Linked DNA regions of Homo sapiens: region 2 is reported to be linked to region 1. Evidence: microRNA targets listed by miRTarBase, many of them from high-throughput screens and not tested one by one. Region 1 holds a microRNA gene; the other region holds the end of a gene's coding sequence.

Region 1 (8,062 bases):
GGACCCACTCCAGGGAGAATCAGATGCTCAAAGCTGCATACATATTTGATCATTTTAAAAAGTCATTTGTGGTCTGGGTTTTGGCAGAAAAAAAGAGAGATTTAAGTCTCCTTTTTCTGCTAATAATGAAGGTCCCTTACAATCAGGGATCTTTTATCTCTTATGTTTATTTAGGGAGGAAGTCAGTAGGAGAGGGGTCTTTTGTGTTTGATACTAAGTCTGTTTTGTTTTGCTCTTGCTTTTCTTAATTTTCATTAAAAAATAACATCCAGTGTTTTGATTTCCTCCAGATCTCAGTTTAAATGGCACCCTGTCAGAGAAGCTGTTCCAGACCACCTTCAAATAAAGAGGATTCTCATTCTTCCCTCCTGTTATTCTCTGTCAAGATATCCTGTTCATTTCTTTAACAGAAATAAAATCTGGTATATCTCAGTCTATAATTATTAATACATGTTCATTCTCTGTTGATTGTCTATGTTCTCATCTAGACTGTAAGCCACATGAGAGCAAAATCACATCTGTTTTATTCACCACTGCGTTTCTAGAACCCAGGGATGAAAAAAAATCAAATGGACAAATAATAGTGTATGTTAAGCACTAACTATGAGCCAGATACTGTGTTAAGTGTTTTGCAAGCTTTACCTCCTTTAATCCCCCCAAAAGCTCTATGAAGTCCTTGCTGTGCAATGAGAAAATGGGTTTAGTTTAAGTATCTGACCACGATTTGATCCTAGATTTGACAAGAGATCCAGACTCTTCTATCAGTCTCCTACATTTATCGCAGAAACAAACAAGCTATTAAAAAGCACCAAGATGCCAGGCATGGTGGTGCCATGCCTATAATACCAGCACTTTGGGAGGCCCAGGTGGAAGGATCACTTGAGATCAGGAGTTTGAGACCAGCCTGGGCAACATAGAGAGAACCTGTCTCTACAAAGAATTTTTTAAAAATTGGCCAGGCATGGTGGTGCATGCCTGTGGTCCCAGCTGTTCAAGAGGCTGAGGCACGGGGAATCCCTTGAGCCCAGGAACTGGAGGCTGCAGTGAGCTATGACTGTTCCACTTCACTTCAGCCTGGGTAACAGAGTAAGACCCTGTCTCTAAAAAAAAAAAAAAAAAAAAAAGGAATTATAATAATAATTTTTTTTTTGAGATGAAGTCTCACTTTGTCGCCCAGGCTGGTGTGCAGTGGCACGATCTCGGCTCACTGCAACCTCCACCTCCCGGGTTCAAGCGATTCTCCTGCCTCAGCCTCCCAAGTAGCTGGGACTACAGGCACCCATCACCATGCCCAGCTAATTTTTGTATTTTTAGTAGAGACGGGGTTTCACTATGTTGGCTAGGCTGGTCTCGAACTCCTGACCTCGTGATCTGCACGCCTTGGCCTCCCAAAGTGCTAGGATTACAGGCATGAGCCTCTGTGCCTGGCCATAAAAAATTTTAAAACACACAAAAGAATCCTTCTTAATCCCGCCACCCCAAATCTCTGTATTATGTTAACATCTTGGTTTGTATCCTAGATGGCTGGATGAATAGATGAATGGATGTTTTTTAGTTTTTAGACAAAGGTGGAATCATGACTCTGTTCTTTTGCTTGCTTTTTAAAAGAAACTAGATGAAATACACTCTAAACATCTTCCCATGTCAACAGAATATCATTTTTTTTCTTATCTATTCTTCACCATTCATCCTAAACCCACATTGTTGGCTTCAAGTAAACTCACCCTCAAATAGTAATTATCCCTTCTATTTGCCTATCTTTTTATAGCTTTGATTCCCACAAGGCTGTGAGATAGGCAGGAAAAGGATTATCTCTACTTAACAGATAATTTTAAGAGTTAACAGTTTGTTCAGGGTCATATAGGGTCAAGTAGGAGAGCCAAGATCCAGAGCCCATCTGTTCAATTCCAAAGCCCATGGGCTTTCCATTACATCCCATTGCCTCATACTATGTATCTGATTGTGTGGCACGGACTTAAAAGTTAAGCTAACCTGGGTACCAATCCTGGCTCCAACAATTCCCAGCTATACAACCTTCAAGCAAGTTAGCTAAGTCCCCTAAGCTCAAGTTTCTTGTAGGGTGTGGCGAGAATGACTTGATAAAATTCACATCAAATACTTAACATGGTAGCTGGTGGTTACTGCTGAGGGCTGACTGACCCATTCATGTCCAGTGAGTAAGTCTGACAGGGCTGTGCTCTGGCTTGAAAGAGGTCCTGTACGCTCTGCCAAACCCTAAATTCCTACCCATATTCCCATCCCAATTACAAGCAGAATGAGGACCTGCCAGTGCTACTTTAGACATAGAACAGAAACCTTCCCACTTAGCCTGGTGCATCACGGCAGGAAGCTACAAGACAAAGCCAGGCCCTGGGGCTCCCAGTTAGAGGAAGTGAGAAAAAGACGTGTACCCTGGGAAGAAAAAGGGATGCATTTCCGTTCCCATCCAAGCCTCACTTCCTTAGAAAGACATTTCAGGTAGATTAACACACCATCTCTGTGCTGTTTTCCATATGCCATTTGGGGGGGCATTTTGTGGTTATTTTTAAGAGACTGCACTTGTAACAAAACAAAAAGTAAGCTTTCTGTTTTCCTTTCTGGGTCATGAGCTGGTCTCAACCCTCCAAATTCAACTGTCACTGGAAGTCTTTGTGGAGTTGGAATTTCTATTGGGAGTGGCTGTGAAGGTAGGAAGAACATCAGCAAATGTGGTGATATGGTTTGAATGTGTTCTCCCAAAGTTCTTGTGCTGGACACTTAATCCCCAATGCAACAGTGTTGAGAGGTGGGAACTTTTGGAGGTGACTGGATTGATGTTATTATTGTGGGAGTGAATTTATTTAAAAAGTAAGTTACCCTCCCTCATGTGTTCTCTTGCCATGTGATGCCTTCTATCAGGTTACTATGCAGCAAGAAGGTCCTCCCCAGATACAGCCCCTGATCTTGTACTTCCCACCCTCCAGAACCATGAGCCAAATAAATTTCTTTTCATTGTAAGTTATCCACTTTTTTTTTTTTGAGACAGGGTCTCACTCTGTCACTCGAGCAGGAGGATTGCTTAAGCCTGGGAGGTCGAGTCTGCAGCAAGCTGTGACCACGACACTGCAGCCTTGACCTCCCAGGCTCAAGCAATCCTGCCTTAGTCACCCAAGTAGCTGGGACTACAGGCATGTGCCACCCCACCTGGTTGATTTTTGTAATTTTTGTGTGTGTAAAGACAGATTTTGCCATGTTCCCCAAGCTGGTCTCAAACTCCTGGGCTCAAGCTCAAGTGATCTGCCCATGTTAACCTCCCAAAGTGCTGGAATTACAGGCATGAGCCACTGCACCAGGCCCCAGTTTCAGGTATTCTTATAGCAGCACAAAACAGACTAAGACAGACACACAATGTCATAAAAATGAAGGAGAAGAGGGGCTTAAAAAGAAAGAAGGCACTCTGAACTTTTCCTACAGATAAACTCACTTATATAGGAAACTAGGAAGTTATTCAAAGGGTGATGTAGAGTTAGATAAGCAGATAAGAAACAATCTCCAAGACAGAGGGGAATAATGCAAGATACAGAAATTGTACACAGCATGCTAACATCCTTGTGTGTGATGTAGACTATTTCTGGGCCTGAACACATCTTCTCTAGAAGGTCACACAAGAACCTGGTTGCAATGGGTGTCTCTGGGAAGGAGAACCAGGAAGCCTAGCTAGGAGCCATGGGTGAGGGGAATCTTAATTTCACTTTGTAGCTTCTGATGCTGCTTGAATATTTTATTTTTTCACATTTTTTTAAAGGAGAAAGGATTAGAGCACCTAATAATATGGTGAGGTCAAGAAAGATGAGACAAGCTTATGAGAAGAGGCAGTTTTCAGGTCATTGATGACTCAATGAGAAAAATATCAATAGGATGGCGGGAGCAGAAGCCAGATTGCACCAAACTGAGGAAACAATAAATTGTCATCAAGTGGAAATAGCAGGAACTGGCAACTCTTTCAAAAGTGTGTTTGTATGCAAAGTAAGGTAGGGTAGTAATCATAGCAGTAGTAAGAGTAGTAGTAAGGAGGATTCCCAGGTTTGAGGTAGGGGATTTTTAACATGAAAAAGACATAGCAGGTTTATGCACAAAGGAGAAGGCCAGGATAGAGTCAGAAAGGACAGCTGCTGTTTTTGCCCAGCCAGCAGGCATTGTCTTTTCTTCTAGTGACAGTGGCTTTATTTTTCTTTTTTTCTTTTTTTTTTTTTTTGAGACGGAGTCTCGCTCTTTTGCCCAGGCTGGACTGCAGTGGCGCTATCTCAGCTCACTGCAAGCTCCGCCTCCTGGGTTCACGCCATTCTCCTGCCTCAGCCTCCCGAGTAGCTGGGACTACAGGTGCCCGCCACCGCGCCCAGCTAATTTTTTGTATTTTTTAGTGGAGATGGGGTTTCACCGTGTTAGCCAAGATGGTCTCGATCTCCTGACCTCATGATCCACCCGCCTCAGCCTCCCAAAGTGCTGGGATTATAGGCGTGAGCCACCACACCCGGCCATGACAGTGGCTTTTTTTTCTTAAAGGAGATATTCCTTCTCTTCTTTCAAAATGTCTGATTTAGATAGGACATTCCTTCTCTTTTTTCAAAATGTCTGGATTAGATCCAGCTCTCTGGCTAAGAGGGGCTGGTGACCCAGGCCCGGTCAATCAGCACATTCCATCCCCCTGGTGCAGTGAGCAATTCCCTTAGAGATGGGCATATGACCCAATAATCTTCCAAAAAGATTGAGTCCTAGGCTGCTGGGATTTTATAAAAAGGAAGCCCTTTTCTTTGGTAGAAGTTGCAGAGATAATGGGACATAAATTGGGAGTTGCTATGTGCCCAAGAAAGCCTTCTGAGAATGAAGAATGAAGTCAACACAGTGGGGAAAGTAATCCTAAGGGATATAGATAAATGTTTCCCTGCTGGCATTGTTTGGGACCAGATGTAGATGATCCATCTACATCTGAATACTAACTATCATTATTTTTTGCTTAAAAGTCAGTTTAAATCAGATTCCTATTTGAAACCATAGGAGTTTTGTTGATACAGAGAGAAGCTGTAGACAGACTAAACAGGGGAGATAAGCATGAAGGATCAAGAGGCTGGAGTCCAGAGCAGGAGTGAGGGTAAGTCTCACATGAGTTGGGGGAGGGAAAACATATTTGCTAAGACAGAGATGGAAGCTGGGCAAGGAGGTCAAGATGACTATGGAGGTGCCGGTAGGTGGTAAGAAGCTGACGGCTACCAACCAGTGGCACCCATGGGCCTCAATCTTCCTCACGATTTAGGGCAGGGATCCCCAATCCCTGGGCCATGGACCAGTATCAAAATAACAATAATAATAATAAATAATAATATAATAGTACATGACTCAAAGTCATGTATCTGGTAGGTTCTATGGTTGACTTGCCCCGCCAAAGTTCATGTGTTAGAAACTGAATCTCCAATGCAACAGTGTTGAGAGGTGGCACCTCATGAGAACTTAACAACATTATCTTGGTAGTGGGATCCTAATAAAAGGGATGAGTTTGGCTCCGTATCTTTCCCCTGCATGTGCACACACATGTATGCATATGCATATATATGCACACACATGCACGCATACTCTCTCTTGCCCTTCACCTTCTGCCATGGGATGACACAGCAAGAAGTCTCTCACCAGATGCAAGCCCCTCACCCTTGGACTTCCCAGCCTCCAGAACTGTAAGAAATAAATTTCTTTTCTTTATAAATTATCTAGTCTGTGGTATTCAGTCATAGCAACACAACATGGACTAAGACAGAAACTGATTTAGGAACTTCACCTGGCTCAGGAACCTGACAATTCCAACCATCTAAAGGGAGCCTGGTTTGATCTGAAGTTTAAATGGGTTCTCCATGGGTGTGTAGATAGGTGGAGAGAGATAAACAGACTCCAAGCTGTGTGTCCTAAATGGCTCTTGGCTATTTGTTTGTCAGTATATAAATGTAGGTTGATATTTTTATTAAGATCTCTGCAAACTCCACACAGTGGATACCCCAAAAGAACAACCAGAAATGAGCAGGGAAACCTCTACTCCTTAATGAGCCTGTCTCGGCTGCCTCATTTCAATGCTGCCATGCCCTTCTTTCAGAGGTTAGTCAATGCATGCCGTCTTTGTCAGCCTCAAAATCAAAGCCCTAAGGAACAAATAAGATTTGCATCTTTTAAAATCCTGACAACGAATTATAAAAGCTGTGAAGATGCTACTTATTTGTTGCAATATTTTAAAATAAATTTAAATCATTTGAATTGTAAGAATACTCAGTCTTTTTCTATTATGTAACAGACACCATTCGATGGTGTTATCATGACTCTCCTGGTAGCACAATCACAAACCTTACCAGGGGCTCCAAGTGCTTCTAATAATCTTTACAAGGGTCTTGTGCAGTGTACAGTCCAGGGATCAAGTCCTGGCTCCTCTGCTTTCTAGTTGCTGGACCTTGGGCAAATGCCTTAACTTTTCCAAGCTCTAGTTCCTCATCTATACTGTGGTGATAACCCTACCTTACAGGGTTGAGAGAATTAAATGAGGCAATTCATGGAAGGCAGTTAAAACAGTGCCTGATGCAGACAAAAATGCAATATATTTTCTAATATATTTGAACAGTAAAGGTTTTATGAGAATTATTTTAAATCACAATTTTCAAAAATGAATTGTTCTCTTGAGTATTTGATACTTTGGGGGAGTTAGGTTCTGTGCTTAAATAAATCACATTGAGTAAGTGTTAGATCCTTTTCTTAAGGCTTGAATTTGGAGTTTTAACAGCAAACATACAAAGGTTACACTTTCTGGATTCAATTCAGAAATGTCAGCACATCAAACACACACATTCAGACACACACACACAGAGGCACTTACTCATACAGTGTAAAGGGCAATTGGGTTTGGAAGAGAATGTCACATGAACAGATTCGCAGCTCATTAAAGCAGTACTTGAAGCTTTTGACCTCAGCTACATAAACAATGTTTTCAGATGATAAAATTGCTGAGAAACCAAGTCCTGTGAGTATGATTTAGTTTCTGAAGCAGTTCAGCATTTAGACTCTCAGAGGATACGGGCAATGGGATGTGATCAGATAGCCCAAGTAGTATTTTGGAAATGATACTAACAGAGCATAGGACAAGGACCTTTGCAAGCTATAAAAGCTTGCCAGGTTTTCAGCCTTTCCTACTGTCCAGATGCCTCAAAATTATGGGGCTTTAAGTAAAGTGCAGATAAGAATCGGTAACAAGAGCAGAAATGATTGGAATCAGTCTGTCATACAAGTGGGTTTGGAGTTAGTGAGGCCTGACACAGGCTAGAATGGAAGGAAGGAGGGAATGAGCATTGTAGTGATGTCTAGACAGGACTGGATGGTTGCTCCAATGTCAGGAGTGGAGGAAAGGGGATCTTAACGTCTGCTTCTCATCAGGTTGTACTCCTCAAGCCCTGCCCAGAGAGCATTGACGATCAGATGCATCATATTTTAGAACACTTGACAATCTGGTTGACCATATTTTAGAACAATTGATGATCTGATTGATAATATTTTAAAAGAATACTAGAGCCATGTTTACTACTGGGCAGATCATTGTACACACACTTTAGCGCTTAAGACTCCACAGGTGCCAGGCACAGTGGCTCACGCCTGTAACCCCCAGCACTTTCAGAGGCAGAGGTGGGAGGATCACTTGAGGCCAGGATTTTGACACCAGCCTGGGCAATTAATTAAAAACAATGAAAAAACAAATAAATAAAAAGCAGAAAAGACTCCAAGGACTCTAATGAAGCCTACTTAGCTTTCTCTTCCTCTTCACCTCACTGCTTCTATGCTGCTACCTGGGTTGTCTTCTGAGGCGGCTGAATCCTTGTACCCTGGGCTCATCCCCCTACCCAGTTTTCACAGTAAGCCCTTCATTAGGTGTTATGGACACTATGGGAGCCTTTCAGAGGAAGAGTGACAGGACTTCATTAAGCCAATTCGTGACAATACATGAATGCCACCAAACTCTCCATTAGGCATTTCAATGTGAACATATTACCTAGCATATCTTGTC
Region 2 (7,000 bases), not on the chromosome of region 1:
GTTCAAATGATTTAACCTCTCTGAGCCTGTTTTCCCTTCTACACATCATTCCTGCGAGGGCCAAACAAATCCATCCACATTCAGCATCTGGAGCAGTTCCTGGCTTGAGGTAAGCCCCCAGTCCTCATGTTCACTCCATAAGGTGGGCAGTAGTATCCTGGTTTACAGATGAGAAGACCGATGCTGAAAAGGGTAACTGACCTGCTTGAGGGCCATGGCAGTTTAGGAATGGAGCCAGGATATAAACCACAGGCTGTGTGTGGTTGTCTGACTCCCGCTGTCCCCTCTTCCCAGCAGGGAGTTGGGGCACAGGCCCCTCCACTCCTCCCAAGCATAGGTCATCCCAGCCAACACCCCACTTCCTTTCCAGGCTGCGTCAACGATCGGAAGAAACAACTGAGGCAGCTCTTCTGCTCCCTTCAAGTTCAGAAGAAAGCTTCCAGTTGATCCCCAGCTGCCAGGAGGAAATCAGCCTTAGCAGGTGCCACCCAGGCCTCCCCCCCACTCCCAGATCCCAGCACAGCACCTCACAGCATTCGCCTCCCCACCTCCAGCCTGGCACCAGCTTTGCTGGCTTAGCAGCTGCAGCTTACTACCTGAATTGGGCCCCTTGGATACCTCCAGCCCATCCCCAGGCATCTTTGCACCAGGAGACAGCCAATCACTGGGACTGGGGGAGGTTTAACCTTGACAAACTGACTTGGCAGTTAGGCCCAAAGAGAACAAATACAGCAAGTTCTGCTACCCCCAGGAGATCATATCTAATAAATGAGCACAGGCCCTACTTGGAGTCACTGGGCACCAGGCCTGGTTCCGGGGATACTGTTGGCTGCAGCCAAGTCCTCCTGGCTTTGACACTTGGATACCTCCCAAGTCAGTGCTGAAAAGGTCCTTCAGGAGCAAGAGTTTGGAGGCTAAGGAACTCGTCTTTAAGCTGTGCTTACACAGCAAGCAGTTATTAGATTGTGTGTTTATTGGGGGCCTGGGGAAGTACTGAGCCCTAAACACATCCTCTTCTCCTTGCATGTCAGGGGAGCCCATGGGGCTCCCTGACCATCATCTGAAAACCAGTGGGACAGGGCATCCCCATTTCTCAGATGGACAAGACAGACCAGGGAGGCAGAGCTTAGTGAGGGTCTCTGCAAAGGTGCATTTATCTAAGTCAGATGGGTGACTTAAGTGCTTCTCTAGGCCTTGTGTTTGAGATTGGGAGCTGAGCCAGAAACCGGAAAACCCTGGGCTCATGGGCAGGACAGCTTCGGGAGTTGAGTGTGAGTAAAAATCTGCCTTTTCACATCTTACATTGCTAAGCTTCCTCTTGGTTTAAGAGGGGTTGCAACAAGACTCGGGGCTGTTGGGGTAACTGTTCCAGGGGGGACTTACTCCCTCTACCACTCCGCCTGCTTCAGAGTAGTTTCTCTGGCTGCAAATGGTTGAATCTGCCTGCCTAGGTCAAGCCCGAAGGGAAGACTTTTGGAAGGAAAATACTGGCAAATCCAAGAAGTGAACCAGCCGACTTTAGGAAAGCCAGAAGCCAGGCTACTCTAGACCTTCTGCCTTCAGAGCATGAGGACTTCTCCCACTCATCCCTGTACCTGAGGCACACCAACCCAGACAGGTCCAGGCATGGACTCCAGGTTCCCTATTTCCAGAAGGAATGCGATTAGCTTTTTTTGGCCCAGCACCCACCCTGCCAGGGAGGAAGGGGCAATTTTCCAGTGATGAAATTGTGAATCAGGCAGTCACACTGGACAACATCTAGCAAGGTGAATTCTGCAACTCCCTACTTTATTTACATTTTAAAATAAGCAATATATTCATACGGTTTAAAATCCAAAGTTTACAAAAGGGTATAGGGTGACATCTCCTTCCCTCCCACCTGTGCGCCCCAACCCTGCAGGTGCTGTTCTGAGGGAATCACACTGTGCTTGCACAAAAATTATTAGCTTATAAGACACCAGCCTTCCCCTTGCTTTCCTCACTTGATGTATCTTGGAGCTTGTTCCTTATTCTTGATTATAGTTGTATGGTATTGCACTATCTGGAGCTAACACCTGTGACCCACACTCATGTTTTAAAAGTTTCTGCATTAGTCAAAAATATTTAAAAGGAGATTCAACTTCACAACCCATATGTCTAGCTTCTCTTGAAAACACGTAAGAACTGGCCATGACAGCCTGTGTTTCTATGTAACTATGAGCCAGAGCCAAGGAGCGGGGGGACCAGGAGAGGTGTGCCCCTGCCATGCTGCCATTTGTTATCACCCGCCTGTCAAATCACAGGTTTATTTCAAGGCAAGAACCATGTTCATAGGTTGTATTCTAAATGGAGTGGCGTGCCCTTACTGAAGGACTAGATGAGGCAAATAAAGACTAGTTGCTGCTATTCATTCATTCAGCTAACATTTATTGAGCCCTTAATGAACACATAAGAGTTTTGACTTCACGGCAGTTCATACTGGGACCTCAGACCACTGAAGGCAGACAGTAACGAGCAGTGCTGGCCGGGCCCCACTTTCAGAGGGGGCGGAAGGGCATCTTGACACGTGTCATATGGTAAGAGGCGCATCCACTCACCCAGGCCTGGTGCAGGACTCTGCAAGGCCCTCCTGAGTAAAGAGTGGCCACGAAGGGCTGCTAGGCAGCACCTACTCTTGGAATCAAGCAGGGAAAAAGTGCAAAATTGGAGCTGGCGGGAGGTGTGTGTGCCTGCCCCACAGATGGCTGTGGTGAGCCACAAAGCACCAAGATTCTGTTCTTCATTCAGCAACCACCCATGAGCCTCCTGCTTTATTCCAATCGCATGGCACCAGCCTGAAAACCTCTCTCCCTTCTGAGAGGAATGCTGGAATGACACTCCACTCTGCCCCTCCCTCCCTCCTTCCTTGCTCAGGGTCCATGTGAACAGCAGGCCATTGTTGGGAAGTGCCTGTTGCAGTCATTCTTACACCCCCACAGCCACTGCCCCACACACCCACTGGTGGCTACCAAGGCCCGTCAATAGATCTTGTGTCCACCGAGCCCTGGTGTCCAGGTCCAGCAGCCAGACAGGCTGAAGGTTCCCTCCTGCCATCACAGAGTAGCCAAGCACTACAAAGAGGTTTTCATGGCCAGATTCCTGACGGCTGGCCCCTTACAGGGCAGATCCTGTCCTTACAGGTGTCAAGGTTGGAGGGTCCTGGGTCCTCCATGACCCTGGGGGGTTGCTGGTCCCCCATCTTGGTTCTTGAGTCTCATCCTTTCAAGATGACCTTGAGAGCTTTAAGCTCATCCTGGTTGAGGGGGTTCAAGTTAAAACCCTTCAGCTCCGGTTTGCCTAGGAGAGAAGATGATCCATCAGCACGTCGGGCCTCCTGCTGGCTCTGGAGCCAGGCCCAGGAAAGGGGCTGACGCTGCACTAATGCTGCCAAACTCAGCCTGGAGGTCTGGCAGGGATGGGCCTCCAATTCTGCAATGCACCAGATGAGGCATCACCACTGCTCCTGTGTCACCAAGAGCCTGCAAACGCGTAACTCTGCTGCCCAAAGAACCTCAGGTTTTTCCAAGACCTGTGACCAATCTAGAGTGCTTGCATTTATCAAGAATTTCAGCTCTGACCTCACTCACTCACTGAAGCCTTCTGAGTTTCCTCAGTCAGAGCTATCTGATCCCCATGCCATGCCCCGATGTATAACGTGAGATCACCCCAAGCGGTTCCTGGGACCTGGAAAAGAAACTATGACAGGACTAGGACTGTAGAAGTCCCCCTGTCCATTCTGTCCCTGGGCAGCTACAACCAACCACTGTGCACACCTCCAGGGCCACTCACAGGCTGCCCCGGACACTGCCCATCTCTGAGGGTCGGACTTCCCATCCCTGCCCTTCAAAGTCCATGCTGATGATTCCCTCCCCTTCTTATCTCCAGTCCCTGCTAAGCCAATACCTTGGGCCTCAAAAAGGCGGTTGACCTTCACTTTAAGTTGCTTCCGCAGTTTTTCTATTTCTTTATCCAGATGATCTTGATCTGAAAAAATGAGGGGGGCAAGCAGAGGATAAGATTGTACCAGACAGACTTGATCCCAGTAGTGGAGAGGCCAGCCTCTCCCCAGCAAGGGCGTGTAGCTTTCAGGAAGGAAAAGGGGACATCAGAGGCCAACTGAGGAAGGATTAAAGTCTAGAAGGGACATGACCTGCTCAGGACCACTCAGAGAGCCCAGGACACAGCAGTCCCAACTCCCATTACACTGGCCTTTTCTGCATTATGCAAAGTACCTTGGGGTGGTCAGTGGATGGAGAAGGCAACATCAGGACTTTAGGCTGCCCTCCCACAATGAAATTATGGAAAATTCAAATGCACAAACAAAATAAGCATCTCTAGATTCAGCCCACCCTAGATGGCTGGAAAATGGATGCCTAAGAAATTTTACAAACCCAAGTCCATCAAGGTGAGGGGGTTTTAGAAAAACATGATTGTGTAAACATGTGACGTAAACAATCAACACGCAAGCAATGCTCAAGCTTAACTTAATTAGCCACTGTGAACAGAAAAGGGTCTTCTAGTGTCATGGACTGCCCCTGAGAAGAGTTGGTGTGATGACAGAGGTGGCTATCAAAGCTTGATTGACCAATTGACTGAAGTCACCCAGCCAATTCCACCTGCTCATGAGTGACATTCTGGCTAGCCTGTCTTCCCCACAGACTCACTCTTTCAGATGGGGGAGAAACCCTGAATGGCCAAGCCTTACAGCCTGGTTCTATTTCTCATTGTGAATGAGTAACCCCAATGTCCATGAGCTTGTTTAGCCTATGTTGATCCCCAAGAAATCTGATAATGTCTCAGAACCCCTCTAGGTACAGTGACAAGACGACATTTGGGGGCCAAAAGGGCCAACAAGATCCTGAACCCAGGCAAGGGACCCTCTGAAAGCTTAGCCTCCAGCCCACCACCAAGTGCAGTTTAATTTTATAACCATAATATTAGTGTATTTTTTCAACACAACAGCTGGAAACTTCTCCAGGCTGGATATAGCTTCCTGTTAGTAGTTTTATGTCACTGGCCAGGAGCAGTGGCTCACGCCTGTAATCCCAGCACTTTGGTGGGAGGCCAAGGTGGGTGGATCACCTGAGGTCACTTAGACCAGCCTGGCCAACATAGCAAAACCCTGTCTTTACTAAAAAAACACAAAAATTAGCCACGCATGATGGCATGCACCTATAATTCCAGCTAATCAGGAGGCTGAGGCAGGAGAATTGCTTGAACCTGGGAGGCAAAGGTTGCAGTGAGCCGAGATAGCACCATTGCACTCCAGCCTGGGTGACAGAGCAAGACTCTGTCTCAAGGAAAAAAAAAAAAGTTTTATTTCATGAGGTATGAAGACATCCTGTCTTCAGGGACTGAGGCAACCTTGCTTGTCCTTTTGGCCATTTTCAAGGTTATGGAAGAAAAAGTATGTGTAGCCTGTTCTTTTTCTAGCCAATAATCCATTTGCAGCCTGACTTGCTTTAAGATGCTTTTCCAAAGAGCTTCCAGATTATGGTTGTGGAAACTGAGTACACTGAGTGCCTAGGCTATGGCAGACCCTAGAGGTTTAATCTCCCCAAACCTCCATTTTCAACCCAGTCTCTATTGCAGGGCATGTAAAAAAGAAAAGCTCACTCTCCCAGGCTCTCTTGCAGCTATGGGTGACCATGTGACTTAGTTCTGGCCAATGAGATGTTGGCAGGAAGTCCCTGAGGAGATGGCCTTACTTCCAAAATAGAAGGCAAAGCTCTATGTGGCGAAAGCCTTCTGTCTTTCCTCCAGCCTGGCATGAGGACATGAGGCCTGCAACGATGAAACAACAACCAGGAGAATATGCTAAGGTGCCACTGCTGGGCATCTATGCCAGGACTGGAGTACACACCTCTGGACAATTTCTTATGCAAGAGTAAAAGAAGCATATTTCCTTAAGCCTCAATTTGTTGGGTTTTGTTATCTGCAGCCCAACTGATTCCTCACTAATAAGAAAGCACTATGCTAGGCACACATATTGTTTTACCTCAACTGCACAGCTATGCTACACAGATGCATCCCCCTCTTAGAGATGAGGAAATAACCCACAGTGGCAGAGGTGGAATTAAAACCCACAGCAGTCTGAACCCTGTGACAGAACTGCCTCTCCTTACGCTGCCTGAAGCCTGACTCCCTGTTCTGGGTTAAGACCAAAGCTGGTGGGAGAGGCAGCACACCCCTGACCCATCCCCAGGAGGCCTTACCTTTTTCAATCATTTCCTTTGTCTCAGGGTGAGGCATCTTGATAAACATGTTCCCGAAGCAAACCATCACATCTTCTGAAAGAGCAAATAGTAATTCCTTCAACAATTTTTTTTTGAGTACCTATTATCTGCCAGGCATTGTTTTAGATACAGACAACAGAGCAGAACAAGAAAAAGTTCCTGCCCTCTTGGAGCTTATGTTACAGTGGAGGAGAGAGAATAAAGATATGATTTGTCAGACCTTAAGAGTTGTAGAGAAAAATAAAGCAGGCTAAGATGGCTAGGGAATGCCAGAGGAGGACCTTGTTAATCATAGCAGGTAGTCTGAGAAGGCCTTACTGATTATATGCTATCTACACAGAGACCTAAGGAAAGTGAGAGTGTGAGCCCTGCAGACATCTGGGGAAAGAGTGAGCCAAACAGAGGAAACAACAGGAACAGCAAAGATCAGTAGTGTGCTTGGGGTGTTCAGAACAGCAAGGGGCCGGGCGCAGTGGCTCACGCCTGTAATCCCAGCACTTTGGGAGGCCGAGGCAGGTGGATCACTTGAGGCCAGGACCTCGAGACCGGCCTGGCCAACATGGCGAAACGCTGTATCTATTAAAAATACAAAAATTAGCTGGGTGTGGTGGCACACGCCTGTAATCTCAGCTACTCAGGAGGCTGAGGCACAAGAATCACTTGAACCTGGGAGACAGAGGTTGCAGTGAGCCAAGATCATGCCACTGCACTCCAGTCTGGGTGACAGAGCAAGGCTCTGTCTCCAA

The links. Region 1 holds the annotated microRNA hsa-miR-1273h-5p (CUGGGAGGUCAAGGCUGCAGU, at 3,102-3,122, opposite strand). A microRNA usually pairs through its seed, bases 2 to 8, with sites in the 3' UTR of a target mRNA and lowers its output. Matches are read on the target gene's strand: a 7mer-m8 pairs with bases 2 to 8, a 7mer-A1 pairs with bases 2 to 7 and ends in A, and an 8mer does both.
Region 2: miRTarBase lists TTLL9 as a target of hsa-miR-1273h-5p. Seed matches in the 3' UTR shown: 8mer at 866-873 and 7mer-m8 at 1,872-1,878.

The regions. Positions count from the first base shown.
Region 1 is chr16:24,198,208-24,206,269 of GRCh38, reverse strand. MIR1273H (microRNA 1273h) reads right to left here and starts at 3,154; the gene lies at 3,039-3,154. The region is part of intron 16 of PRKCB (protein kinase C beta); the gene reads right to left.
Region 2 is chr20:31,942,575-31,949,574 of GRCh38, forward strand. TTLL9 (tubulin tyrosine ligase like 9) reads left to right here. Exons shown (of 15, transcript NM_001008409.5): 15 at 371-2,426. The coding sequence ends at 447. PDRG1 (p53 and DNA damage regulated 1) reads right to left here. Exons shown (of 5, transcript NM_030815.3): 3 at 6,234-6,308; 4 at 3,922-4,002; 5 at 1,763-3,315. The coding sequence ends at 3,233. Among named protein-coding and RNA genes, the nearest start is that of PDRG1, 6.0 kb to the right of the region's middle.